Linked DNA regions of Homo sapiens: regions 1, 2, 3, 4 and 5 are each linked to region 6. Evidence: fine-mapped expression QTL. A gene starts in region 6. Each other region holds a variant in brackets. All regions are shown on one strand. Distances are from middle to middle. Region 1 holds the start of LOC124900933 (a long non-coding RNA gene). Region 2 has its middle 2.7 kb from the start of MED10. Region 3 has its middle 8.7 kb from the start of MED10. Region 4 has its middle 12 kb from the start of MED10. Region 5 overlaps LINC02145 (long intergenic non-protein coding RNA 2145). Region 6 holds the start of LINC02145 (long intergenic non-protein coding RNA 2145).

Region 1 (4,947 bases), 70 kb after region 6:
ATGTAGTATACATTTACATGGTGCATTTGTTCCACTAACAACTTTAAATTTTATTAATTTTAACTAGGCATGGTGGCCTCAGTAGTCCCAGCTACTCAGGAGGGAGACAGGAGGATTCTATGAGCTCAAGAGTCCGTGGCTGCAGTGAGCTATGATCACACCACTGCACTGCAGCCTGGGCAACGGAGCAAGACCCCTTCTCAAAAATAAAAAATAAAAAACTTATCAATTTTGAAATCAATGCACATCAGGATACAGAATCTCAATGAGAAATATTTGTTGGGTTTCTTTTTTTGAAATGGAGCCTCAATCTGTCGCCCAGACTGGAGTGTGCAGTGGTGTGATCTTGGCTCACTGCCACCTCCCTCCACCTCCTGGGTTCAAGTGATTCTCCTGCCTCAGCCTCCCGAGTAGCTGGGATTACAGGAGCCCCCGACCACACCTGGCTAATTTTGTATTTTTAGTAGAGATGAGGCTTCACCATGTTGGCCAGGCTGATCTCGAACTCCTGACCTCAAGTGATCCACCTACCTTGGCCTCCCAAAGTGCTGAGATTACAGGCGTGAACCACCAGGCCCAGCCTGAGAAATATTTGTTGACCAAATATTTCTCAATTCCACTTGGCACACACAAATAAAGTTCCCTTTTCAACCATCTGGCGCCTGCCATTCTCTCTGTTTTAATACAGGTGGTTTTGTAGCAGGACTGTACTAGTTGAATGTGATAACCGATCTTTTGGCTATTCCATCTGATTATTTCTGCCCAGCATTCTTAGCAAGTAACTTAATATTGGCAAAGTATTGGAAGAAAATTTCAAAATATAAGAAAAGGAGCCTTGAGAATAACAGGATCTATGGGGGGCGGGGATGTCAAATCCACGGATGTTACTTCCGAAGCCAGCAAGGCCTGCATCTCCCTGAGCAAACAGTGGGCATGCCCAGAACTGCCATCAGCCCCAACTCAAGTGCATGGTTCTCCCCTCGTTAGTGGCAGCCTTGGTGGGCCACTTTCCTCCTCTGGGCTTCTGGTCACTCACTTGCAAAATGGGGCTCTGTGACCAATGACCTGTAGGGTTTGTCCCAGTGCCAGAAGCCCATGTTTCTATGGCACAAGTGAAATAAAATTTTTCCATGGAATGTAGTTCAAAAAAAAGCCATTTGAAATGTCCCTTCTGGCTTTAGCAACAGTTTGTGTTTTTTGTTTGTTTGTTGTTGTTGTTGTTTGTTTGTTTGTTTTTTAACTGAAATCTGCACAGCTCTTTACCAATGTGCTGAATGCATTTCAGATTGTACAAAAGTTGAAAATGCTACATATCTCAGTGAGAAGCACATTAAAAATCTTTTAAAAGTGTTCATGTCAACTTCCATCTTTCATTTTCAGGGTCATATTTCATTGTGAATTGTGATGTTGACATTGAATTAGAAATACTGTTAAGTGCAAATATGCATGTACAGTTACATAATACAGGTGAATAATCTTGTTTAATTAAGTTTCATAAAATCTTGAACATGATCCATGGGCATTTGCATCAGCACTTTGAAAATTGATGGCATGACTTATTGTTGTGGCAGAAGCACTGGTGAGCAGGGATCTCTGTAATGAGCCTGATTCCTCCTTGACAGCTCCAATTTCATAGCATGGTCCATCTCAGGAGCCCTCAGAGTTGACCATGGGACAACTGGCTGCAGAAAGACACAGCTTGATCGCGTATTTTTGCTTGCACAGGCCATACCCTGTTCCTGCGGGGGGTGAGGTGCCCTAGAGGTCAAATAGCTGTGCCCCCCCACCCCCCCCACTCCTCAGCAAGGATACTCTCACAGAGGCATACCAGCTTCCGGGCTCCTGCCACCACACAATTCCAGTGGCTCCAGGAATGCCCATTCCACGCCAAAGGCTTCTCTGGAAAAACACAGGTTAAACCAAAGCCAGCTGTCATTTGGGTGGTGACCCGATTCAACATCACAACAAACAGGGCAGATCCAGGCAGGAGCTGCTGATGAGAAGAACAAAGACCTCAGGGAGCTGCGAGCCTTGTGCCAGCCTCCACGCCCTCTACCCCTTACAACACTTTCTGAACCCACATTGCTTTCAGCGTTCATAGGATTCTGTTTCAAAGAAGGTATGGGATCTGTACAGAAAAGAGCATTTACCTTAACATCAGCCCAGAAACCTTGGGAATGAGTCAGTCATCATAGGGCAGAGGGATGTGTGTCTCCAGGTGAAGAAATGAACAAAATGCATAGCACAGCCTAGCCTGACCATTCTGCCCACTCCAAGAACAAAGCAATAATGGTGGGGGAAGTGGGGAGCAGCCACACTCTGCCTCTAATAAAATGGGGAGAGGAAGTAATTAACAGATCCTGGGGATGAAATAAATAAGCCCCTCAGACACTGTAACTTCAGCTATTTGGCAGATCTTATCCAGAAGTTTTTCTGCTCTCTCATCAGGGTGGCTTCTTTGAGGATTTCCCACGATTATGTCTGAAATGCATTCCCCTCAATATTCCAATTCCAGAGCAGTCTGACTTGACAACAACAAACAAATCAGACCAGACAAGCAGTATTGATCCAGCAGGCGTGAATTCGGAGCCACCACGTTGCTTTCTTTGTGATTACAATACGATAATGGAATACCCACGGTGTCGCCAGCCCTGAGCAGCAACAAGGCACAAATCCTGCCTCGTGTCATCTGAACATCACAAACTTGCAACAAAAAGAAACGATGGCTCAGTCCTGTGCTGACCCTGCAAATGCAAT[T/A]CGAGTCTCCTTCCCTCTTCTCCTTCCAGAGATTATAGGCACAGATCTGGCCATGGGGGTGAAAAGTGCTTCTCCTCTTCTGAAGAGATTCAACAATAAATAAATATCACAAGTAAAAGCTACTGCATTAAAATATTTTAAATGAGAGAAACAAAATCCTAGGCACCCTGGACAGAGCTCAATTAATGACTTATAGACTCCAGTCCATTTTTGGTAACACTGTTGATCTTCCCATGTGAAAACCTAACAGGAAGAAAATGCATCTAAAAAAGCTGGGCTTTTTACGAGATTGTTCCCAGTACAGGTACCTGGAACAATTGATAAAAGACCTAAGGTGGATTTGCTTTGCTTTGAACCCTCACCCTCCTACGGAAGACCTAGATAGCCCTTCGAAAGGCATAAGTGCTCTGTAAAAGTACTCAAGAGTAAAGGCATAATAAACCGTGGCTGCAAGCAGGCATTTGAAAGTGACAACCGAGACCTAAGGGGGAGTTTAACAATATGTTTGTGACAGATAAGTTTGAATATGCAGGATTGGAAAGATAACATTTCTCAACTGCTTCTTTAATTATAGCCTTGAAGAGGAGGTTGTCACTTCTACCTTCATTCAGGAAACTGTCTTGTGATGTCTCCATTAATTATGACTGTCTATGTATTGCCAGGGAGCTTTCCCATTCCCTGACACCACCAAGGCCTGGCAGCAGGTCTCGGGCTGGGGCAGAGCCTCGTTTCCTGGTTAGTGGTCAGTGCAGCTCTCCAAAACAGGACTGAGGTCAGCAGATCATCTGATCAGGCTCACGTAGCTCCACCTCTTGCCTTTGGTTAGGTGCCCCATCATCTGGGGTACCACGGCCACTCCTGTAGCACTGGCCATCCAGACACCAGACACTAACATCTGTCATGTCATCACTGAACAAGAGCTCTCTGCCTTACTGATGTTTTCGTTATCTGTTGGCAAAAAAATAAATTCAGGGGACATGTGGACCCACCTCTCAAAAAAAAGCCAAATAATGTATGTGAACTTTCCCCTCCATCCGTGGAGCTTAACACCGCCCCTGCCCCATTGAGTGTGGGCTCCACTTAGTGACTCACTTCCAAAGAGCAGAGCAAAGGGAAAGTAGTAACATGACAGCGGAGGAAGCTGGCAGACACCACCCAAACCCAAAAGGTCAGGGTTATCATCCCCAGTGATGTCATGTCCATGACATGATGCAATACAAAGGAATCTTCACCTTCGTGGTATTTTTTCCAAAAATTACCCAGAAACCCAGTGTAAACAGGAGGAAAACAACAGAGAAGCAAAATGAAAGGACATTTTACAAAATGCCTTGCCAGCACTCCTCAAAAGTGTCAAGGTCAGGAAAAACAACGAGGAAGGGCTGAGAAACTGTCACAGACCACAGGAGACTAAAGAGGCATGACCAATGCTGTGGTCTGAATGTGTCCTCTCCGAAATTCAGGTGTTGAAACTTCATGGCCAATGTGATAGTATCAAGAGGTGAGGCCTTTAAGGGTTGATTAGGCCATGAGGGTTTCTCCCTTGTCAATAGGATTAAGGCCCCCATAAAGAGGCTTCGTGCAGCATTTGGCTAGCTTGCTCTTCTGCTGTTTTGCCACAGGTGGACACAGCGTCCCTCCCCTCTGGAGGATGCAGCAACAAAATGCCTCCTTGGAAGCTGAGAGCAGCCCTCACTGGACAACAGAACCTGCTGGCGCTGTGATCTTGGACTTCCCAACCTCCAGAACAGTGAGAGATACATTTCTGTTATTTATAAGCTACCCAGTCTTAGATATTCTGTTACAGCAGCACAAACAAACTAAGATTAAGCAGTGTGGGATCCTGGATGAGAAAGAGGACATAAGTAGAAAAATGAGTGAAATCCAAATGAAGTCTAGTGTTTGGATCATAGGAATGCACGAACCTTCATCTCTTAGCTGTAGCAAAAGCACGATGGTCACGTTAGATGGGAGCATGAGAGGAAGCTAGGTGAAGGATACGCGGGAATGTAGCTAGATTTAGGAGTAGGTAACTGAGGTGCTGGAGTGTGAATTTAGGAATGTGCTCACTTTTGGAACCATCCCTGTGTGACCCTGTGCTATCTTTGCAAATTCTCTACAAATCTAAAATTATTCCGAAACAAAAAGTTTATTAAAGAATAAGGCGCTGGCTAGAACCTTGCAATATCTCCT
Region 2 (4,947 bases), 44 kb after region 6:
CAATACACACATGGATGAAAATCCTAAAGTTTGCATGAAGGACCAATAACGGTAGTTTCCCTGCCCCTCTACCAGAACCCCTGGGATCAGCGCCTGCCTGCCTCCTTTCTTCTATGTAATCGGCGGCCACCTCCCCTAGCTCTTGCTGCTAACCATGCTTCCCGGACACCTGCTGCCTTCGTAGGTCAGGGTCTCACCTCCTCGGGCCAATTCTGACCAAACAGCACCCTGTGGGGTTGCCCTGTCTTAGTAAACTGCTGTTTATCTCATTGAAATTCAGTTTAGGTCATTTCACTCTTATGTTTAAGAAACTTTTCTGCCCGATCTCCTATGATAGCGGATATCTCCTCTAGCCTGTTTGAATTTCTCAAGTGATTTATTTTACTGAATATATTTGTGGCCTGTACTTTTCAGTGCCTAGAAACAGGCAAAGTGAGGGAGCTCCTTTGCTAGATGATCTTCAGAGCCTCTCCCAGCTGTGACCAGAAATGGAAAGCCAGAGAAGGTAAGTGACTTGCCAAACTTATGGAATCAGGGCACTCCAGTTGGTGGGCTGGGCTGATAAACAGAAATGTTACATAAAATACTTCTCTCCTGATTTAACAACAATTAACTTTAGGGAATTATAAAACAAGATGGAGGCTGGGCGTGGTGGCTCAGGCCTGTAATCCCAGAACTTTGGAAGGCCAAGGCAGGTGGATTACCTGAGGTGAGGAGTTCGAGACCGACCTGACCAATATGGAGAAACCCTGTCTCTACTAAAAATACAAAAATTAGTCAGACATGGTGGTGTGCGCCTGTAGTCCCAGCTACTTGGGAGGCTGAGACAGGAGAATTGCTTGAACCCAGGAGGCAGAGGTTGCAGTAAGCCGAGATCATGCCACTGCACTCCAGCCTGGGCAACAGAGCAAGACTCAAAAAAAAAAAAAAAAGGTGGAAATAAAATATTAGACAAATAAAAAATTTTAAGTTATTAGGTAGAGGTAGCGACATGGAGTGAACGGCCTTTCTCAATTTCATAAGTAAGAAAGATAGATAATTGATGGAACTTAGGCTTTGGTAAGTATTTATTTTAAAAATTTAAGGGTATCTCTTTGCTAGTATATATAATTCCCAAACTAGTAGACAGGGGGAAGGGAATAAAGAAAACACAATCAACTCAATAGAAGGCAAGAAAAGAAGAGAATAAAGAAGCAAAGAACAAGCATGGAAAATAAAACTCACAACGTAAAGTGCAAAAATTAAAGGCACACGACTCAACAGCAAAAAAGCAAAAGAAGAAATTTATAAATGGGCAAAGGACCTGAACAGATACTTCTCAAAAGAAGACATAAAAATGACCAGCAAAAATGCTCAGCATCACATATCATCAGGGAAATACAAATTAAAAGCATAATGAGATGTCACCTTACACTGTTAGAAGGGCTATAATCAAAAAGACCAAAGACAATGGGTGTGGGTGAAAATGTGGAGGAAAGGGAACCCTTGTACACTGTTGATGGGAATGTAAATTAGTGCAGCCTTTATGGAAAATAGAATGGAAGTTTCCCAAAACTCTAAAAACAGAATTACCATATGATCCAGCAGTCCTACTTCTGAGTATATACTGTGAACCCTGAATATCTGAGACAGTTCTCAGTTAATTTAGAAAGTTTATTTTGCCAAGGTTGAAGACACACACTCATGACACGGCCTCAGGAGGTCCTGATGACATGAGCCCAAGGTGGTCAGGGCACAGCTTGGTTTTATACATTTTAGGGAAACATGAGACATAAATCAATATGTAAGTGTAAGGTATACACTGGTTCTGTCCAGAAAGGCGGGAAAACTCAAAGCAGGGAGGGGGCTTCCAGGTCACTGGTAGGTGAAAGACAAATAGTTACATTATTTTGAGTTTCTGATTTGCCTTTCCAAAGGAGGCAATCAGATATGCACCTATCTCAGTGAGCAAAGGGATCACTTTGAATAGAATGGGAGGCAGGTTGTCCCTGAGCATTTTCCAGCATGACTTTTCCCTTTAGCTTAGTGATTTGGGGGCCCCAAAATTTATTTTCCTTTCACAATACTCAAAGGAATTGAAATCACTATGTCAAAGAGATATCTGTGTTTCCAGAAAGAGGTCCCAGTCCAGACCCCGAGAGAGTTCTTGGATCTTGTGAAAGAAGGAATTCAGGGTGAGTCCATATAGTAAAGTAAAAGCAAGTGTATTAGTAAAATAAAGGAATAAAGAATGGCTACTCCATAGGCAGAGCGGCCCGAGGGCTACTGGTTACTTGCTGTTATGGTTATTTCTTGATTGTATGCTAAGCAAGTGGTGGCTTATTTATGCCTCCCCGTTTTAGACCATTTAGGGTAACTTCCTAACAGGTCATGGCATTTGGAAACTGTCAGGGCAGTGGTGGGAGTATAGCAGTGAGAACTCTCGTTGCCATCTTGGTTTTGGTGGGGTTTAGCTGGCTTCTTTACAGCAAACTGTTTTATCAGTGAGGTGTTTATGACCTGTATTTGGTGCCGACCTCCTATCTCATCTTGTGACTTAGAATGCCTAACCATCTGGGAATGCAGCCCAGTAGGTTTGTTTCAGCCTTATTTTACCCAGCTCCTATTCAAGATGGAGTTGCTCTGCTTCAAATGCCTCTAACATCTGTACCCCATAAAAATAGACAATTATTATTTGTTAATTAAAAATAAAATTAAAAAGTGTATCATGAACTGTGTTCCCTGTCATTAAATGTGTGCCTTCCCCACTAAAAACATACGTTAGTGAACACAGTAAATGTTAACAGATTTAACATTTAATTAATTTAATTAATTAATTAATTATTTAATTTAACATTTAACTGTTAGTCTATCCTAACAGTTAAATGTTAACAGATTTAACTGTTAGG[G/A]TAGACTCTCAGATTAGAATCCAATTGGAAGTGTTTTGTTTTGTTGTTTTAATCTAGCTATGTTGCTTTTCAAAGGTACACCTAAAACAAACTTATAGACAGGTTGAAAATAAAGAGGGAGGATAGAATAATATATGGCAGGCAACCAAAAGAAAGTTGTTAATGCATATAAAAGTTAGTAAAGAAACATTAAAAAGATGCTTTTAATGGTAAAGAGAAGACTCATTAAAGATAGAATACTATTCACCTATAAGCAACTGACAACATAGTCCCATATTATCTAGCACAAAAATTGACAAAATATGAGGAAAAATTCAAAATCCATAATTATTACAGAGGATTTGGAGTACCTCTATCAGAAAACAATAAATCAAGTAGGCCAAAAAGCATATGAAGAATATGGAAGACTTAAGTAATATATTAAGAATTGTGATCTCTGAAAAACAGTGACCCCTGAAGAATAGATTGTTTCCAAGCACATTTCAAATACTTACAAAAACTTGACCATTCCCTAGACCACAAAGAAAGTTTCAGCAAACTCAGATCCTATCACATAGACCAGATTTTCTGACCTCGTAATTCCAGTAGAAATCTATGAATTTATTCATTTTCTACACATACATACACGTTCGAAAATCAAAACACACTCTAAATAATTCATGAGTTTACATACATCTGAGAATGGGCAAGACCCAATTATGTCTGTTGTCTTCGTGTGATTATTAATAGCACTCTTCCACTCACTGTCAAACATGTCCCAGTTTGGTTGATACGTTATGTGGACATCCTATTTAAAAGGAAAATTATAAAACATTTGGAATTAAATGACAAGAATTCCCTGTCAAACTTCTGCTTTACTCCTGAGGTAATAATTTGAGGGAAAACAGCCTGGAAAAAATAAACTGGAGTTTCAACTCAAAGAGTAGGATAAAAAGAATCAAAAGGGAAATCACAGGCACCAAAAAATACATAAAAAGGGGTGACAAAAGTAAAGACAGACACTGATGAAAATGAGAACTATTGCATTAGTTTTCTGTCTAGCTGCATTCGAAGCTGGAAAGATAAAAATGAAGAAAAGTTGATTGTTGAAAAGATGAGTCAAATATATATACTTCTGGCAAGTCTCATCAGAGAAGAAGAAAAGAAAGGTGCTAAAAGAGAAAAATATACAGTATTATAAATGAGTGAGGGTGAGGGTAAAACTTATATGTTCATAATTTTGAAAGCTTAGAAGATATAAACAATTTTCTAGGAAACTACCAGAAATTAACTTAAGAAAAATAAACAATTAGAATAGTTCCTAGTCTTTCAATAAACTGGCCAGTAGGCAAAAATCTCTTTCAAAGATAGGAGAGACATAAGCTCGGACAGTTTTTTATACTAATTGTTTAAAAATCAAACATTAAAGAACAAATAATTTCAAACTTACCCAGATACATTCAGAGACTAGAAAAAGAAGAAATACATCCCAGCTCATTTTGAAAGAGCAGTATAACTTTTATATGAAAATCATCAAGGACAATACAAGAAAATATAGGTCAATCTTCCTTATGAAAGTAGATACAAAAGTCTTAAGTAAGATATTATCAGAATTAGATCAGTTGTCATGCATCAGGCATCTATTGCTGTATAGCAAACCATGCCAAAACTTAGTGGCGTAAAACAACCTCAGTCCTTCATTTTACCCACAAATCTGCATTGTGGCCTGTGCATGGCGTTCACAGCTTCTCTCTGCTCCATGTCACATGGGCTGGGGTGGCTTCACTGGAGGCTGAAGGACCTGCTTTCACAATGGCTTATTCAGCGGGGCTGTGGGCTGGCGACCACACATCCCCCCCGTGTGGGTGTGTCCCTGGGATTTGGGAGCTTCCTCCCTGATGGTGGCAGGGTGCCAAGAGCACAGAGCTCAGGAGAAGCAGGTGAAAGCAGCACCACCTCTTATGACCTTGCCTGGGAAGTCCCCCGACAGCCAGGGCACATTTAGATCCCCAGGGAGGGAACATAACCTGTCTTCCCGGTGGAAGAAGTAAGAAGTCACATTGATAGAGGAGCAGGTGAG
Region 3 (4,947 bases), 50 kb after region 6:
AGCGAGACTCCATCTCAATAAAATAAAATTACATTAAATTAAATTAAAAAGAAACCTTTGAGAAAACTAAGAATAGAAAAGAACTTTCTAAACCTGATGAAAGATGTTTTATCTACTAAGAACATAGAGAAAGCATTAGACTCAATAATGAAACTTCAGGAACATGTTTGTTAAAGTCCTGGACACAGCCGGAAGCTTCACTGTCGTGTTCTAGGCCTCTCTCCCGGCTGCTGGTGGTTGCTGGCAGTGGTTGCTGTTCCTTGGCTGGCAGAAGCATCCCTCCTCTCCACCTCCAGCTTCACGCGGTGTTGTCCCTGTGTGTGTCTCTGTGGCCAAAATTTCCCCTTTTCATGAGGACGCCAGTCGGGTTGGATTAGAGCCCACCCTGATGACTGGAGTTTTTCACTGAATTACCTCTGTGAAGATGCCATCTCCAAATCAGGTTGCGTTTGGAGGCGCTGGAGGTCAGGACTCCAACATATCTTTTTTGAGGGGATATAACTCAACTGTAACACCCCTCCTTCTCTGCTCAAGACCAGCAGCACTCGTTGTCTGTATTGTGATCGCGGGATGTTTAATTCAGGACCAGGCCATAACGAGCATAATGATGGTGTTAGTCCCTGTGATTAACCATCAGCTACAGTTTCTAAAGCACTCATCTCCCAGTTGTCCACAATGACTACTCCAGTGAAGATTGTTCCCTGCTGAAACAAAAAGCATCCCAAGCCCACTTAAACCTACATTGAGACCGGGCACGGTGGCTCACGCCTGTAATCCCAGCATTTTGGGAGTCCGAGGTAGGCAGATCACGAGGTCAAGAGATCAAGACCATCCTGGCCAACATGGTGAAACCCCCGTCTCTACTAAAAATGCAAAAATTAGCTGGGTGTGGTGGCAGGTGCCTGTAATTCCAGCTACTTAAGAGGCTGAAGCAGGAGAATCGCTTGAACCCAAGAGGCGGAGGTTGCAGTGAGCCGAGATCGCGCCACTGCACTCCAGCCTGGAGACAGAGCGAGACTCCGTCTCAAAAAAAAAAATAAATAAACAAAAAGATAAACAAACAAAAAACCTACATTGAAATTCTTCCTTTTACTCAAACAGCTAAGTAATGGCTGCTTTCCCTTTATTTAGCAACATAATACTGTTGGCTTGTTTATAAGAAACGTTTTAACATTTCAACACTCCAGTCCCCAAATGTAAATGAAATTAGGTTGGAAAATTCCAGTAAGTCAGAAGGTCGGCCTGGTAGGAAGCCGTGTGCAGAAAGCCTACAGAGCATTGCTGACTATACGTTTTGTCGCCTTGTTTTCCCTCCGAAGTCGACATGAGCTGCCCCTAGGAAATTTCCTTACTTCTGATACTTGGTGACCTTGAAATCTGGAGGCTGTTTTTTCCCTTCTTCTTTACCTTTTTTTTTTTTTCATTCACACTATTATCGCTCCATCAGCATCCAAAGCCCTTAGTGGTATCATTTGGAACATGTTTTGCCATTCATTCTAATTTATTCTAAGAGCCAGATTCAGCTTAAGTTTAAAAAAAAAAAATGCAGCTCTCCTACCCAGAGGAAGGAACAGCTGGTTTCTGCTTCTCACTTTGAAGATTTTCAGCACATTAGTAGTTCTAGCAGAAGGGAAGATTTGCAACTCTGTTGTTTGATGATGATGGTGATGATGATGACGGTGATGATGGTGATGGTCATGATCATACTGATGACAATATCTGCCATTTTGGAACATATTTTATAGATTATAGACTGTCTCATTTATTCTTCATAACCCTAAAGGAAGCTACTATAATTTGAACCATATGTGGTCAAAAGAAAGCCAAAAAAGTATCCCTAAATACAGAATTAGGAGACAGAATAATTTCATCTGATAGAAAATGCTGACATTATTTTCCCTCAAGAGCTACATTGACACATGAATGTTCAAATAAATTAGGTTTCCCGTTCATTCTATTAGATTCACATACCAATGAGAGTGCCTGACTTGTGCAATAAAAAAATAGAAATTGTATCTTTTTTTACACTAACAAGCATTGAGAAGCCGTAAGATTTCTCTTCTCTTCTGTTTTCCTTTCTATGCAATATTTGCAGCAATGTGCAGCTCTACCTGGAATTCTGTGTGATGTATGTGATCAAATTTTTAAAAGCAAAAAGATGAGATTACACTAATACAGACTGGCATGTGATCCAATCAGCAAATGGAAGTATGCAGTTGGCTTTCACTATCAGCTTTGTTTTTTTGTTGTTGTTGTTGTTGTTTTGTTGTTTTTTTTTTTTTACAAATTGTCACAAGCTCAAAAGAGAGGGCAGGACAGCATTACAGAAATAGGGATAAGGTAAGACATCTAACTCCTTAGCAGATTATACACACAAGCATAGAAATACAAACTTTTCTAGGCTGCATAGCAACTTCACCCTCCTGGGTCTTTCGGCACACGGTGTAAGCCCTGTTATCTCATAGCGTTTTGTAAAAATTAATGACTTTCAGTTGAAGTCTAAGTTTGTCTTAAACACTCCAAAGAGAAATGAGCTATGCTCAATTTCTCTTCTCACATATGCTCTTCTCATTGTGGATGACCCAGAAAACAAAGTCTTACCTTGCAGAAAATCGTGGTGCACGCAGGCCTGGAACACCTGCTCCGGTTCTGATCAAGAAAGACAGATAACCAGGAGACTGTACAGCAGAAAGCATCTGAAA[A/T]AAGCAAAAAGAAAGCGCTTTTTCAGAAAACTAAGTAAGAATATATGAAAATTCTTCATTATGGAGGATGGAAGCTCAGAGGAGACAGGACCAACATCTGCACAACTTTGAACAAATACCTGGCTATTAATACGCAAGACAAGAGAACTGGGCTCACCTCCTTCACTTTCTAGAAGGTGGCTGTAGTTTCGTTAGTCCACGTCCTCTGAGGAGCAGATCCCAGGATGGGATTAAACAAGAACTTTCTTAGAAGAAATACATGTGACAGAAAAAGGGAACCAGCATGGCTGGAAGAACCATCAGAACAAAATGCAGGTCTGATCCCAAAAGAAGGGAGGGAGAGAGGGAGGGAAGGAAGGAGGGAGGGAGGGAGGAAACAAAGGGAGTCTAGAAGCATCTTAGACTGTGGTACAGTCCTAAGGAGAGTTTGGTAAGACCACTGAGAAGCCCCCAAACCAAAATCGCTCACCAGCAGAGTCCCCAGGAATGGACAAACCTTAGCCTTCCTGCATCACTCACTCAGTCATTGGCTGAGCAGCCCATGGAGGCAAAAAGTGCAATAGATTTCAAAGGAGAGCATTAGGGCCCTTGGTTAATTCTGCCCTTACCATCAGATATCTGAAAGATGCATTCTTGTGGGTGCCACATTAGGATAAGCAACAGTAATGATGATGATGATGATGATGATGATGATGATGATGATGCCATTTATTGACAACCTATCCAAAGTCAAGGATTGTACTAGGTATTTTACATATATTAAATATAATTATCAAAAACAATCCTCCCTAGGCTGGGTATGATTGCTCCCCATTTTCTCATGAAGAAATTGAAACTTGGGTAAATATTTTGCCAAGAAAGGGTGTAGAGTTGAGTATCTGATCCTTCAGGCATCATATTCTTACCACAGCAAACAAATGAGAGAATTTTTGCTTCTGCAATAAGAAATAGAGTTCGCTGAATTTATTAAGCTAAAAAGTTGAGTGTTTGGTGGGTTTTTTTGGGGGGGGGGTTGTTTTTACAATATAAATTTTTGTTTACAATATAAATAAATGCAGCATTCATTCTACTTAATTCATAAATGACAATGTTGGAAACTAGAGGGCCGGGCGCGGTGGCTCACGCCTGTAATCCCAGCACTTTGGGAGGCCGAGGCGGGCGGATCACGAGGTCAGGAGATCGAGACCATCCCGGCTAAAAAACGGTGAAACCCCGTCTCTACTAAAAAAATACAAAAAATTAGCCGGGCGTAGTGGCGGGCGCCTGTAGTCCCAGCTACTTGGGAGGCTGAGGCAGGAGAATGGCGTGAACCCGGGAGGCGGAGCTTGCAGTGAGCCGAGATCCCGCCACTGCACTCCAGCCTGGGCGACAGAGCGAGACTCCGTCTCAAAAAAAAAAAAAAAAAAAAAAAGAAACTAGAGCCATTGTACTTTCCCACCAAGGAGCTCATGACCACACTGAGCCCTCAGTGACCCCAAATGGCATTTCTTATGTCCCCCTGGCTGTCTAAAGTGGAGCTCAGGTATGGCCAGGAAGGGACGCAGCCCCAGTACTTCTTTGGTATATGACTTTGGCCCATTTCTAGAATTGTCTTGGTCTTCAGTGAGATGGAGCAGGGACTCCTCCTAGGGGCCTGCAGGTCACCCCCTGCCCAGTGAAGAAATAAAGAAAACTCTTAAGTTCCTTCAGGAAAAATTCCAGGCACCTAGCTCACACTGAAAAATAACTGAATAAACAAAAAGATAATAGTAGCTTAAAACAGTAGCCAAAAAAGTTAGTCAAGAGATATGTTATTCCCTATAAAAACTGAAAATAACACCTTAACATATGTCCCTGAGTTATTTTTCAAAAACCTGAACCCCCACCAAACAGATTTGCTAACACATAGACCTCAAATTAAGGGAAACTAAAAACTAAACTCTGGTCACTGTTCTTTGTTCTAAATTTCTTCCTAAGGGGCCTGGGAACGTCACACCCACAAGTTAGAGCTATCAGTTTGGTGCAAAAGTAATTGCAGGTTTTTTTTTTTTTTTTTTTTGCTGTTACTTTCAGTGGCAAAACGTGCAATTTTGCACCAACCTAATAACATTGTTTTCTGCTGATCCCACATTTTTAGACAAAGCTTTGCCTCCTTAGCCAATCACAGATCAGAAATCTTTAAATCCACCTATAACCTGTGGGCCCCCAACTTCCAGTTGTCCTACGTTTTTAGGTCAAACCAACGTATAGTCTCCATATTTGAATT
Region 4 (4,947 bases), 30 kb after region 6:
TTAGTGGGTGCAGCGCACCAGCATGGCACATGTATACGTATGTAACTAACCTGCACAATGCGCACATGTACCCTAAAACTTAAAGTATAATAAATAAATAAATAAATAAATAAATAAAAATAAAAATAAAAATAAATAAAGTCACATTCTGAGGTTTCAGGTGGACACGATTCACGATTTTGGGGGAAGAACCATTCAACCCAGTCCAGGCTCCCATGTGCAAACTTCCCCAATTGCCCTGCCTTATCCCTAAGTCCCTAAAAGACTGGATGACTACACACACACACACACACACACACACACACACACACACACAGATGCATGCACATGGAGCTTGTAAGTACATACATATGGATACACACATATGTGTGTATATATATTGTCATATTGAAATGAATTAGCTCTATTACTTAGAGGCTGCCTTCTAAACAGAACCGGGAATCTGGGACTGGAGCAGGAACCAAAACAGGGTTCCTTGAGGTCCCTGCTCCTAATGCAGCTCTTTGGCAGCTGGAAGAAATGGCATCTTCCATGCAGGGGTTACTGATCACCTTGGCACCTGCATTCCCACTCACACTCTGCCTGAACAACCATCCCAATACATTCCACTGCTCGCCCCAACCAGCAATGAGTACAGCCCCAGTGGTTTCAGGGTGTGACGTGCTCAGAGCTCCTGCAAGCTGAAGGTGAGACCAGCACACACAGCACGGCCCACCTAGTATCGCGCAGCACGAGGCAAGTCACCTTCCCCATCTCCCTCAGTACCCCCTGCCCTCCACCTCTAGCACATTCTCTCTGATGGAATGACCAAAGGCAGTCTGAGCAGCAGACGCCTCCTCCCAGCAAAATCCAGGCTGCAGTTGGCCTACTGCATGTGTGACCCCGGAGATGTCCCTTCCCTGTTCGGGACCCTGGCTCCCCTCTGTGAGTGGAATGGGTCTGGGGATAAACGAGGTACCATCCCTCAAACCTGCGCACAGTGCCCGATCCAGAGTCAGTGATCAACACCTCTTACTGTGGAACAGCTCCAGGGTCTCTCCACAGAGTTGGAGATGCTGGTCTTGGGCTCCCGAGGACAATGGCAGCTGGCACTGCCCTCTGCAGTGGCGCCATCGAAGCTGCTACATCTGCCTCCAGAGCCAAGCCCTGTGATGAGGCCAAGCCTCAAACGGCAGGATCATCGGGGCAACCGCAGGGACACTGTCTAGCAGACCTGGGCTTTGACAGGGCTCCAGAGAGGGATGGAGGAGCTGGGTCCCCAGCTGTGTCCACCCAGGTAAGGGAACACCCCCAGATGGGTCAGCTTGGGCACCTCAAACCACGTAGACTTCATGACTGTTTTGGAGGAATCTTTTTTTAAGTCTCAGCTTCAGCATTTGAGTACACATGGTGCGTGCAAGCCTTCCAGTATCAAAGTGGATGGAGCACAGGGCTGTGAGTCACAGGATGCTGCTGGACACCCAGCCCCTCCCTGACCAGCCACACGCCCATGGCCAGTCAGCCAGCCCCTGAAAGGCTGGGTTTATGTTGATACTAAAAAGTTGCTATTGAGTTTATTCAAAATAATAATGTTCTGCCTACAAAACACCTGGCTTAGCAATCAGCTTGGTGATGCAACCGCTATGCCATTCGGCCTGCTTGTAAGCAGGGTATTCATACTTCAGAGGGCTCTAGTCTCCAAAAACCAGTGAGAACGATGCCATCTGCATCTGTGCCAACACGGCAGTGTGGTGATGCTTCAGGTCTGTGTACGATAAATCACTGCAGCTAGACAGTCCTCAAATTAGAACTGGCCTCCTCTATCTTTCCAATGTGTTTAAAATTACACGGGCACGTGCATCCCAACTCTGTGTTTGCCGTGCACTTACCAAAAACAAACAGCCCAGTATGTGTGTGGCTTTGAAACTGTATGTGTATAAATGACAAGCTGGAGCTTCTGTCTGTGTCTTCCGTGGAGAACCTGTACTTACCAGCTCAGGAAGGGGGCACTGACCTCCACCTGGGAAATGAGGAAGTTCAAGTCTTCCTCTGGCAGAGCGTCCTCAGGGGCTTCCTGCCACACTGCTGGGGACACAGAAATTCTCCCCATGCCTCCTGCCGGCAGCGACCTATGCACACACCTCTCCTGCCCCATGGCCTGGTGGTCCCACACACTGCAGCCCGTCCTACCCTCAGAGGATCTGCACTCCCG[C/A]AGTTCTGCTGAAGCGCGTGTATGCCAGGGCCATCTGCAAAAATTCTGGCTTTCTCAGCTGTGTGACTCCCACTGCCACCCACAGTATTTCTTCCTTATCACCAAGTCATGTCATTTGTTTTCTTTTTGTGTCATTTAGTTATTTTTCTTCCAAAAACACAGAAGAGAATCTTTTGGTACAAAGAAGAAGACAAACACTGCTGCTGGTTCTTTAAACACCCAGACTTACTTGTGTTATAGAATTTGAGGCCAAATGCATACATCAGTTTGCTCATTCGTTTAACAATTGATATGTACCCATTACGTCTCAGTCACTGTGATAAGTCCAGGGTATAGTAGTGGACGAGGCTGGTGTGGTCCAGACTCTTAAGGAGATGACAGTCTTGAAGGTCAGATACTTCCTCTGTAACTCTGAGAGCTACCTTTGATACTTATTGGATGTCAAAGGAGAGTTTGACAAACAGACCAGCACTGGTCTGAGGTGTCAGAGAAGGTGAGATAACAGAAATGACTTTTACACTGCAACCTGAAAGATGCGCACAGGTGAGCCAGGAAAGAGGTGAGTTATGTGGAGGTGTGGTGGACTGAGAGGATGAAATACGAGTATGACTGGAGTGAAAATAAATAAATAAAAGCAAGGAAATGGGGTATTTAGGAGACTTAGTGATGGCAATGATACCAGGGCAGGGGAAGAGGGAGGGACAGAAAGGAGGCAAAGATGATATGACCAGCTGAAAGTTCATGCCACTTTCTGAGGCAGACACAGAGGGAGACTTGGGTAGGAAACGTATCTGTGTAATTTTAGAGACACTGAGTTGGAGGTTCCTGGGGAATAGCAGAGGGGGAAAAAAATGGAAGTTGGGTTACAGAAGTGTAGGACTCATTTAGGCTGGGCTATAAACCTGGAATCTCAGCACAGGATGGTAACCGGTGCCAGGGAATAGATGAGCTTGTCCAGGGAGAGGGTGGGTAAGGAAAGATGCCTCGAGGAACCCAAACCTGAACCTCTGCTGGAGCATGCTGTTTAGAAGTCAAGGAAAGAGAGGGCTCTCCGGAAGCTGTGCTGGTTGGAATGGGGTCTGGATTCAGCATTTTAATAAGCTCCTTGGTGGTTCTGCCACGAGTAGGCAGAAGTCTGCCTTGGAGAAACTCATTCAGATGGAGCTTGGACAAGGCCGACCCTCAGCTAATGTTGACTGAATCAACGTGTTTTGTAATTATGTATTTGTCCGTCTTTCTGTATCAATACATACAGATCTTCATTCCTTCATTCATGTTAGTCATAGCACAGTTATCCAGCAAATGGATAAAGCACGATTTATCTAAGCCATTATTAATGGACATTCAAGTTATTGCTTGAATATAATGTAAAATTTATATAATGTAAAATTTATATAATGTAAAAATTAACACCTGCCTATTCTTCTGCTGGGTTTTCTTATTTGTGAAAGAGCTCTGCATAGTAGTCATGAAGTTCCTTGTGATATGTATAATAAGTATTACAACTGGGCTCAGTGGCTCACACTTATAATCTCAGCATTTTGGGAGGCCAAGGAGGGAGGACCACTTGAGGCCAGGAGATTGAGACTAGCCTGGGCAATATAGTGAAACCTGATCTTTACAAATGAAAATAAAAAACATTAGCTGGGCATGGTAGTGCACACCTATAGTCCCAGCTACTCAGGAGGCTGAGGTGGGAGGATCCCTTGAGCCCAGGAATTTAAGATTACAGTGAGCTATGATTGTGCCACTGCACTCCAACCTGGGCCAGAGTGAGTCCCTGTCTCTATTTTTAAAAAAAAAAAAAAAAAAAAGAACTTTCTTAGCTTTTTTGCCTTTTGAGTTTATGGTGTTTTTAGCCTTATGTTATTTATTTTTTTCTAACAGCTATACAGCCAAATGTATCGATCTTTTCCTTTGTAACTTCTTAGGTTTGTGATACATTTAAAAAGTTTAAGAAGTGGTACACCTGCCACCTAACGTCACCTGAGTCTTGACAGAACCAAGGACTGTATATTGTCGAACTCCCTTGGGGCAATGGCACCTCTGTCACTTGGACAGATGGGTCACTTCTGTGCAGGTGAGTGGCAGGAAACACAGCAGGCTCACCTGGCTATACAGGGTAAACATGTGACCTCGTTTGTAGCCAGCACCTGTATTGTCACTGACTGTAGAAATATTTTAATGAGGCACTCATATATATTTGATAGGATTCAAAAAATGGAAATAAAAAAAGAACACAGAAAACTGATAAACTACTCAGTGACATTACTGATACTCCCCAAAGATGAGCGCTTCCCCTTGTACCTAACACCTGGTTATTTCAGGACTTGAGCACAATAGAGACAGATGGTATCACAATCCTAATCAAGTGTAACTCCAACAGCTCAACTTCCAGGAATTTACCCTAAATAACAATTGAACAAGTGGAAGATGTATGGTCAAAGATAATAACTTCATATTAGTGAAGAACTGGGAAGCACACAGGTACCCAATGGGAGCTGATAAACTAAGCCCAGGAGAGCCACAGTCTTGTGACGTGGCAGGCACAGGCCCAGCTCTCCCATTCGTTAGCTGGGTGACCTGAGCAGGCGCCTCAGGTCCCTCATCTGTAAACCTCACCGATTTACTGTGGGAATTGAGGCAATGCATGGAAAGTGCTTAACCTGTGTCCAGCATGTAAATAACAACACATCTGCTGTTAGCACATTAATGGAACGCTAAATATTAAAATTATGTGAGAGGAAGTTTGAGTT
Region 5 (4,947 bases), 27 kb before region 6:
TCTAGCAGTTGCTTGCATGCATGGAAGTCCATCCTCTGAGGCTGGCTTTAGTCTGGCTTCTCAGCCAGCACACACTTAAATCTTTCGATTTTCTCAACTGTATCTTGAGAAAGCTTTTTAGAATGGGTTTCTTTTTTACCATTACTTTTTATTCATTAAGTGTGACCAAAACCGTATGACGATAATTAGAAAATAGTGATAATGCAGTGCTGATAATCAAATAAAACATTTAAGGGAAAGGTGTTTCCAGAGTATTCTTGAAAAGACTGCTGCCTTTTTGAGATGAAAGAGATTTGGTGCCACACATTGAAAGCAAAAGTTGAATAGAATTATATTGCTAAAAGGGAAAGTGTGCTTTAAAAGAAGGCAGTCCAGTCTGTTCACTGCAGCTTTCAAACCAATTGTAGTTCAGTAGAACTTTTAATATTTGAATAGCTTATGCCAGACTCAGTTTTAGAAAGGGAAGAGTGTTTAGGGAAACACTTTAATGAGCTACTTAGAAGAAAAGGAAGGCTTTGAGAACATAAATTATCAGCAGATGCAGCACATATGAAAAGAAATTGGGGGTTGGTTTGAGAGAATAAGAGGAAGAAAGAAGGAGCTAACATGGCAGAAGTATGAGAAACAGATTGAAGAAATGGAGAGGGGCTGCTGTGAACAGAACTATCTAAAACTAAGTTTGCATAGCTACAATACTAACTCTACCATGTCTCTGAAAGTTCTGTAAAGTCTTCTACATATTTAAACTCTTAGGTGAGTGATGAATTTCATGTCAGGATCAAAGCCATGCAGATAGAGGATCATACTTGCTCACTGGAAAGATAATTGCTACAGCAGACTAAGTCAGTAGAAGCAGGATCCTGTTGGCCCAAAGGCAACCTTTAGGATGTATGCAGCTGGAGAATTTATTAAAATTTTGGTGAAAGCACTGTTATTCCATGGGGGTGAAATAAGAACTTAAACTCAATCCAGGTTTTTAGGGGGAAAAGTCATCCTAACAGATACATGGGTGAAATGATGATGATTGTGACAATGATGCTCATGATTTTTAACAACAGTGATGATGATGGTGATGGTAATGACGGCGATGATGATGGTGAGATTTAAGATGATGATTATGATGGTAATAGTGATGATGATGATAATGATCGTGATAATGGAGATTATGGTGATGATGGTGATGGTGATAATGGAGATGATGATCATGGTGATAATGGAGATGGTGATGATGACGGTAATGATGGTGATTATGACATTGATAATGGAGGTGATGGCGATGGTAATGATGATGATGGAGATGATAACAATGATGATAATAGAGGTGGTGGTGATGGTAATGATGGTGAGAATGAAGATTATGGTGATGGTGATGATGATGATGGAGATGATGACAATGGAGATGATGGTGATGATGGTGATGACAGTGGTAGTGATGATGATGACAATGATAGTGATGATGATGGTGATGATAATAATAATGAAATAGTGGTGGTGGTGGTGGTGGTGGTGGTGAACATGATAATGATTATAGCTAACATCTTTAAGTGCTTACTATATTCTACATCCATGATACCTTAATTGAGTTATTGAATTGAATCCTTACAATGTATGAGGTTAGCCTATTGCTATTGCCATTTTGTAGGTGAGAATAACAATAGACCTTGTCACCTAGTACCTAGAAAGCTTCTCTGTAAAACCCAGATTGTCCCTGAGTGTGGAGAATTGGAAGTCATCCACAAACAATGAAAGGTCAGTTCACAGTGGGAACATGGCCTTGGAAGTCGAATAGTCAATCCTGGGCATCTGATGCAAGGCCAATTGCTTGCAGACAGGGATTAGAACAGAAAACACTACTAGTGTTAAGTCAGTAATTACATGTAAGAACTGTGTAAGTACACATAGACGAAGCAAAGAAGAGGCAGAAAGAGAGAAAATGGCATAAATGGAGAGGGAGAGGTGACAAGCGGAGAGGTGTCCTGGAGCTGTTTATTCCTAAACAGGAGTAACAGGATGAAAGACCAAAGATAGCCACTGCACATCTACCTGAGTCTCTGCCCTACCCACATCTGCTCCTCATCCTTCTACCTCCCACTTTTCAATCTGTGGAGGGATCTGCCTGCAACTTTCAATAATCTAGTCCACCAATAAGGTGCCAACCACAGCAGAGTTGCCAGGCAAATGCAAGATGCCTAGTTACATCTGGATTCCAGATAAACAAAAAATAACTTTAATAAACACATCTTACACAATTTTGGGAAAAGTTCAAATGTAATTGGG[A/C]ATCCTATATTTTTATTTGTTAAATCTGGCAATGATGCCCCTTACCAAGACCATATTCTTTCTATTGTCCCACCTCCTTCTCCTGTTCATTAATCTGAGGGAGGGAAGATAAAAGCAAATTCATTGAATATTTCCACAAACTCAGATTCTCAATCATGAGGACTGGAGGAGAAAGACTGGGTCTTGGATGATGAGACCACCTCTAGCTGCCTGTGAGCAGTTCTATGGTGAAGGGTAGCACATGTGCATGGGGCCTGGAGGAGGGATGACCTGACCTTAGATAACCGTCTTTCATTCATTCATTCATTCATTCATTCATACTTCAACAGACAGCTATGAAGTACTGTTGACCCTTGAACAACGTGGATTTGAACCCTGTGGATCCACATCTATGTGAATTTTCTTCTGACTCTGCCATCCCTGGGATAGCAATACTAAGCCCTCCTTTTCTACCTCCTCTTTAGCTCACTCAACATGAAGATAATAAGGACGATGACCCTTTGATGACCCACTTCCACTTAATGAATGGTAAATATTTTTCTTTCTTACGATTTTTTATTAGCAATTTATTTTCTTTAGCTTGCCTTATTGTAAAAATACAGCGTATAACACATATAGTATACAGAATATGTGTTATCTTCTGTTTAAATTATCAGTAAGGTTCCTGGTCAACAGAGGCTATCGGTACTTAAGTTTTGGGGGAATCAAAAGTTATACTCAAATTTTCTACTGCAAGGTAGGTCTGAGTCCCTAACCTCTGCACTGTTCACAGGTCAACTGTGCTCCCTTTGTGCCAGACAGGGGATATGCTGAAAGTAACAACAAAGAAAGTCAATGACTTCGTTAGGATGCCATGGAGTGTTGAAGTCTTGACTCCAAGGACTTCAGAATGTGATCTTATTTGGAAAGAAGGTCCCAACAGAGATAATCAAGGTAAAATCAGGCCTAATGGCCTCAGGGTTTGGGCCCTAACCAATATGTCTGGTGTCCTTAAAACAAGGGGAAACGTGGGCACCATCATACACAGAGAGAAGATGATGTGACAATGCAGAGAGAAGACGGCCATGTGAAGATGGAGGATTAGAGTGCACAGTGTGGAAACAAGCCAAGGGACCTCTGTGGCCAACAGAAACTGGGAGAGGGCCAGGCGTGGTGGCTGATGCCTGTAATCCTAGCACTTTGGGAGGCCGAGGCAGGCAGATGATTTGAGGTCAGGAGTTTGAGACAAGCCTGGCCAACCTGGTGAAACCCCACCTCTACTAAAAATACAAAAATTAGCCAGGCGTGGTGTTGGGCGCCTGTAGTCACAGCTACTCAGGAGGCTAAGGCAGGAGAATCACTTGAACCCAGGAGGCGGAGGCTGCAGTGAGTCGAGATCATGCCATTGCACTCCAGCCTGGGCAACAGAGAGAGGCACAGGACAGATCCTCCCTAGAGTCTTAAGGGAGCCTTAGGGAGAGAGATGGGACAGATCCTCCCCTGAGGGCACCTTCATCTTGGACTTCTGGCCTCCAGAACTGTAGGACCCACCTAATCTATGTTTTGTCACAGTAGCCCTAGGAAATGAATACACACAGTCATCTACTCAAACCCTAAAGGTGGGAAGAATAACGACGGCTGGGCACTATGAAGGGAGGTGTGCAGTGCTACAGGTTCATATCAGAGGGTCTTTCCTGGCCAGGAGACTCAGAGACCTGCCTCTGAGGAAGCCACACTTGCATTGGGAGAGAAGCAAAGCCTGTGGGCAAATAGGCAGAGGAGCTTGGGAGCAGGAGGCCCTGGGAACCCGAGGGGGGCAGGTGATCTGTCCGCATGCAGGCTATGGACATGATTAGTGGCATGAAATCCAGGCCTTGACTCTAATGGTTAGATTTGCCCATCAGCAAAAATCTTCCCAGAGGCAATCCTATGAGGATAAGATCTGTAAATACAGGGCTGATGAGATTAAGGCAACTCCTCAAAATCTCATCAGGAAGCAAGTGATGCAGATGGAACTAATAAAAGATTAAATGCAATCTTGAAACCTGTAATGCATAATGCTGTAATTGCGGAGGCCTTTGGAGAATGATAGGAATATTTTAAACAAAGGAAGGAGAGGGAGGAGTGCATTCATGCCCTTCAGCACTGTCTGGGAGGATGGATGTCCCAATTTTAGAGGTCCCCTCCCAGGTCTTTTTCTGGAAATAGCCCCAGAGTCGAAAAGAACAATGCATCTTGCTACCACAGCACATCGGAAGCATCCCTTCAGAATATCCACTTCTCTTTGCTCCAATTTTATGCTCACTAAGCAACCTTCTGAGTTGTAATTTGGTGTTCTGACTAGGTGATTTTTTTTCCAGGCCCTGAGCCAGGACTATTCTGGGGGCCTGCGTTCAGGCTGTGCAGGGACAAGGCAGATATGAGAAGGCCAGGCTCTGACACCAGGCAGCACCACATGAGCCAGAAAAAAAGGGGGGGTTCAAGACTGGGTCAGCTCAGAAGAGCAGGGGAGTGCAATGTCCCTAGAAGACGGGTCCCTCCAGCCTGGCAGGCAGCACTGGGAGGCTCGGCTGAGCGGCCGATCCATCTTGGGCACGTGTACATGTTCCATGTGTCTTGAGAGAGCAGGCAGAGGAACCCCAGGAGAGGGGAAACCTGATAGAAGGCAAGGCCAATGTCTTCAGTCAAGAA
Region 6 (4,947 bases):
GGGTTTTCCAAACCAGTCAGTCCACACGGCCTTTCCACCTGGTAGCTGCCATTTCCATCCAGGCCCTGGAATTCATGAGGTTACCCTTTGGAGAATGCTGCATTCAACCTACCCACTCCCTTTACAGATTGGACAAACCCCCTTGACACCGTACCTCCGTGTGAACATCACACAGCAATTCATGGAAAGCGTGCACCCATTAGCAGGATGGGAGAGGCTGGAAACCAGCCCTGGCACATTCAAGATGCCCTCCTATGGGAGGAAGAATTGCAACAGCATTTTGTGCTCTGAATGCCCAGTCTATAGGAAGATGAACAGAATGTGCACTAAATATTTAGGCATCTGAGCTGTGGTAGCTCATGGCAGGAAGCCACGCTCACCTCCCAGGACCTGATTCTGCCATAATACACTGTCCCAGAACCACTATAGATCACCTCACCACTGGCTGAGGAAGACAAAGACAGGAGCTGAGTGTAGATGGGCAGCAGGCTCATCCTTGTCTCCCTTCTGCTGGCTGATGCACACCTTGTCCAGCTTGCTTAAGACACATGCTCCAACACCTGTCATTGTCAGGCATTAGATTCGTGGCCATGCCTGCTGTGCCCACCAAGCTGCCAGCACCACATGGCTGCTGCTCACTGGTGTGCGGTGTGTGCCCAGCCTGAGGGCCAGGCGAGCTCAGGACACAGACCTCCCAGTGCCAGCACATAGGAAGGCCCTGGTAGCTGGCCAGGGAGGCCTAAGCTCACTTCAGTCATCAGACACGAAGTTCCATTCTCTAAGGATATCATCTGGGAGGAGGTGAAGCCTTTCTGTCTTGAAGGTTGGGTCTACCTCCAGGTGTGAAGGAAGGACATTTCATATACAGGGGAAAGAGGTATTGGCCAAGAAATATGGAGCCCAGATTCAAAGGGGGACAGAGACCCCATCTCTTGATGGAAGGAGGGTCAAGGAATTTTAGAAACTTATTTTCCCCAAACTTCTAGAGTTGTTGACACCAGTTGTTTATTTGTCACATTGCTTATTTATTCACTTACTTATTCTTTAAAAGTTATTTTAAGCATAATTAAAGATATAATTCATCTCAGACTATTATCACGAGATTATTGTCTTATTATTACCTTCCACACTCCAAAGCCACCACCCTTGGATGACATAAATATCCAATGACTATTTATCAGAACCATAGGCATTTTTATCTACCTGTCACCTTGCAGGGTCAACATTTACAAACACGTCGTTATTACAGGAACACAGAATAAGATAATGATCTTATTATCAAGACCACAGATAATAATCGTGGCTCGTTGAAGCCCTTTGAACCCAACAGCTGTGGGCCCATCTGGAGCTAGTGGCCTTACTTCTCTAGATCAGATTTGCACACTTTGAAAACTGCAGCAGTTAGGAAGCTGCAGCATCCCACAGGGGGAAGCAGCTCAACAGCCAGAGCTGGGCTGAGAAGCGGGTATCTGGAAGCTTGCTCCTTAATGCCTCCTGAGGAAGCGCTGGGCACACACCTGGCACAGCCCACATGCAAGAGTTAGCACCACCCGCACACATAGTGCTCAGCTGTTCCTTTGGCAGCACTGTTGTTAGCAATGTGTGACCGCATTGGGAGGGGGTCTGAGTACCATGGAGGTGACTGAGATGCTCTGTACCTCTGTTACTTAGCACAGTGCAGGGCAGGAAGCAGGAAACTCAACAGATGTCTATTCAATGATTGATGGGCAGCTGCCAAGCAACTTCCAGAGTAGGGGGTCCCATGATGCAGATCCCTCCTCCCCACCCACTCCATGTCAGCCTTATTTCAGGCCTCACAACATCCCACTTGAAATATTAACTGAGCTCTTGGCCTCAGTCATCGTGTTCTCCTGTCACCACTGCACCATCTCAAAGTGGCCCTTCCTACCCCACTAGGCTTCCCACTGCCCCGCACACAGCCAAAGCCCTGCCCTCACAGCCTGGCCCTCCAGATGTCTGCAGCCTGGGCCCCATCTGTCTTCAGACTTCGCTTCCCATAAAGTTTCCTCATCTGGCTTTTGGTTTTGTTTCACAAATAAGCCACACACACATGCACACACAAAGAGGTACATGCACACACAAAGAGGTACATGCACACATGTGCAAACATCTGTGACCACAGACCCAGATGCCAGCACACACGTGCACACACACTCATGCTTCCAGGTGCAAATACACATACATACACACACACACACACACACACACCAGCTCCATACTTTAAACCTCTTTCCCCTGTATATGAAATGTCCTTCCTTCACACCTGGAGGTAGACCCAACCTTCAAGACAGAAAGGCTCCACCTCCTCCCAGATGATCTTCTTCCCAAGTTGCAATTGAGTTCTCCCTCCCCATTTCTCTATACAGCGGCAACAGACTCACCATCACGATACCATTGCCGTCTTCTCTCAATGCAGGTGCCGTCCATGCTGTGAGTCCCTGGAGAGCAGCAGGGATACTTTTTACAGCTTTTTCGATGCTCACTTACGGCCCCCAGCAGAGAGCACCTCAGCAGGTGCTCCAAGAACGATGTTGCCTTGGAAAGGTAGCGAGGCCCTGAAACACAGAGAATAAGGGCAAAGTCTGGGCTGCTCTCAGAGCCTCAGGGCCCTGCCACCCCAAAGTCCTAGGACAGGGAGCGTGTCCTCTAACTTTTCTCTCTCCCTGCACTTTATCTCCACCAGGAATTCTCAACCTTTTTTGTTCTAATAGAGCTCTCTTCAACCGCCTGAAAAAGTTCCTAATCCTTTTATAAAATATTGTCTTAAAATGCACATAATAGGCTGGGCACAGTGGCTCCTGCCTGTAATCCCAACACTATGGGAAGCCGAGGCAGGTGGATCACTTGATGTCAGGAATTCGAGACCAGCCTGGCCAATATGGTGAAACCCCGTCTCTACTAAAAATACAAAAATAAGCCAGGCATGGTGGTGCACGCCTGTAATCCCAGCTACTCAGGAGGCTGAGGCAAGGAGAATCACTTGAACCAGGGAGGCGGAGGTTGCAGTGAGCGGAGATCATGCCATTGAACTCCAGCCTGGGCAACAGAGTGAGACTCCATCTCAAAAAAAAAAAAAAAAGAAATGCACAAAATAAATATTACAAAGGGCCTGAGTGATGCTGAAATCCAGCTCTGCGTTCACACTTGAGTTGGGGGATGGCAGGTTCCCCAGCACCGTGTGCTCCCAGGTTCCCAGCAAATGTGAGCTCACTCTCCCTGGAGCCCTTGCCCTGGGTCCTGATCACCAGCCCCCTCTGGTTGATCTTCCCTCAGGTAGGAAGTAGCCCTGAGGAGGGGGAGCACAGAGGAGTTGTGGGCAGGGGTGCAGAAGGAGAAAATATGTTGAGGACAACAGCATCAGAGGCCAAAGGCAGACTCTGGCTGCTGGTCTGCACAGACCACCATCTATGGGTTGCAGAATCTGGGTGGACACGTAAGGAGAGGAGGGAAAAGAGAGAGAAAAAAAAAACTGTCACAGGCAAGCACAAAGAGTAGCTGCCCTCAATTAGGGCTAGTAAAGAATTGTTCCCACTGCACGGGGTTTTCCAACTGCAATCTTTGGGCTTGTGAAGCATTTTCTCTGCATCTGTTGTTGATGCCATTAAGTAGAATGAGTCACTGTATATATTAAGCACTAAGACCAGCAGCGACATAAGTCTATGAATTCAATGATCATGCCAGCTTTAAGTAGAAAAGGAGCTTTTTTTTTTTTATTAAACCAGTGGCAAAGCAGAGGAAATCAAGTAATTTTTACATTATAAGATTTTTGCTTTTTTTTATACTGTGTCTATTTCCTTTTAATGACAGTTATCAAAAGTCACTTTTGGGAAAAGGCTTTGAAATTGAATAGAAAAATCTCATGCATTTACTTTTCCTGTTTTTCTGAAATTCAAATAAGATGTGAGCGACAGGCGCTGAGTGCTCCAGCCCCCATGCTCAGCAATCGCAAGCTTTCTTCAGACCTCTCTTTGCAAGCTCGGGAGGAGACCAGAGAGGTTCCTTAGGAGGATCCCTGGCTGGAATCTAGGCCAGGAAGCCAACAGCAAAATGTGTTTGGGGTGAGCATCTGTGTTTGGGGCCTTCTGGCATGGTAACACTCTGACCTGGGGTGTTCGACATCACTTGTGCTCTCAGCACAGCTTCCAGAACAAGCCAATGGCCCCAACAAAGGACAAAGGGTCCAGAACCATGTGACCAGAAAAGGAAGACAGCCAGGTGTATTTGACAGCTCCCAGAATGACCTGGCCAGACACTCAGAAGGCCACGGAAGCTTCGCTCAGGCATGCTGCCAGTGTGTGTTTATGTCCCAAACCCTCACACAGCATTTGCTACCTGACTGGCCTTTGGCAAAGGGCTTTAGAGATGTTCCCCCAAGTCCCACATGGCACAGAGGGCAGGTGCGCATGCTGTGACAATTTCACAGGTGAGGAAAGGGAGGCCCAGGGAGCTTACAGAGCTCATGAGAGGTGCAGCCAGGATGTGAGCCCAGCCAGCTGGCCCCACAGCCTGTGCCCATGTGTGACAGGTGCCCCTCTGCCCCTTTCGTGGGGTCACATTGCCTAGTTGCATCAGAAACTTAACCCAACCTTACAGCTTGGTGTGTGGGTGGGCAGTGGAGGGTGGTGCAGGCGGCATCTCCTTACCTCTGATGCAGCATCCACCAGAAAAGCTGCAGAGAGTGTGGAAGGCAGAACAGTACTTCCAAAAAAAAACTAAAAACATCCAAGTCCTGATCTCCAGACCTGTGCCTATGTTAGGTAACGTGGCAAGGCGACACTGAGGTTGCAGATGGAATCAGCAGGCCTTGAAAGAGGGCACTTGTCCTGGATGGTCTTCATGTCCTCAGTGTAATCACAAAACTCCTCAAAAGTGAAAAGAGGGTCAGGGTCAGAGGAAGATATGACTATGGAGAAAGGCACAGAGAAA

Evidence for each region.
Region 1: its variant is fine-mapped to the expression of LINC02145 in esophagus muscle (GTEx, PIP 0.96).
Region 2: its variant is fine-mapped to the expression of LINC02145 in tibial nerve (GTEx, PIP above 0.99). The same link has a PIP of 0.9 or more in sun-exposed skin and visceral fat.
Region 3: its variant is fine-mapped to the expression of LINC02145 in spleen (GTEx, PIP 0.93).
Region 4: its variant is fine-mapped to the expression of LINC02145 in whole blood (TOPMed, PIP above 0.99).
Region 5: its variant is fine-mapped to the expression of LINC02145 in thyroid (GTEx, PIP 0.95).

The regions. Positions count from the first base shown.
Region 1 is chr5:6,404,824-6,409,770 of GRCh38, forward strand. LOC124900933 (a long non-coding RNA gene) reads left to right here and starts at 4,377. Exons shown (of 2, transcript XR_007058678.1): 1 at 4,377-4,504. RefSeq lists enhancers at 3,358-4,557, 3,753-4,047. The variant T/A (reference allele first, on the strand shown) is at 2,758.
Region 2 is chr5:6,378,816-6,383,762 of GRCh38, forward strand. No RefSeq gene overlaps it. Among named protein-coding and RNA genes, the nearest start is that of MED10, 2.7 kb to the left of the region's middle. RefSeq lists an enhancer at 1-186. The variant G/A (reference allele first, on the strand shown) is at 2,889.
Region 3 is chr5:6,384,793-6,389,739 of GRCh38, forward strand. No RefSeq gene overlaps it. Among named protein-coding and RNA genes, the nearest start is that of MED10, 8.7 kb to the left of the region's middle. The variant A/T (reference allele first, on the strand shown) is at 2,703.
Region 4 is chr5:6,364,375-6,369,321 of GRCh38, forward strand. No RefSeq gene overlaps it. Among named protein-coding and RNA genes, the nearest start is that of MED10, 12 kb to the right of the region's middle. RefSeq lists a silencer at 3,043-3,210. The variant C/A (reference allele first, on the strand shown) is at 2,192.
Region 5 is chr5:6,307,624-6,312,570 of GRCh38, forward strand. It overlaps LINC02145 (long intergenic non-protein coding RNA 2145), which reads right to left. Exons shown (of 2, transcript NR_028351.1): 2 at 2,818-4,947. Among named protein-coding and RNA genes, the nearest start is that of LINC02145, 27 kb to the right of the region's middle. The variant A/C (reference allele first, on the strand shown) is at 2,278.
Region 6 is chr5:6,334,748-6,339,694 of GRCh38, forward strand. LINC02145 (long intergenic non-protein coding RNA 2145) reads right to left here and starts at 2,545. Exons shown (of 2, transcript NR_028351.1): 1 at 2,403-2,545.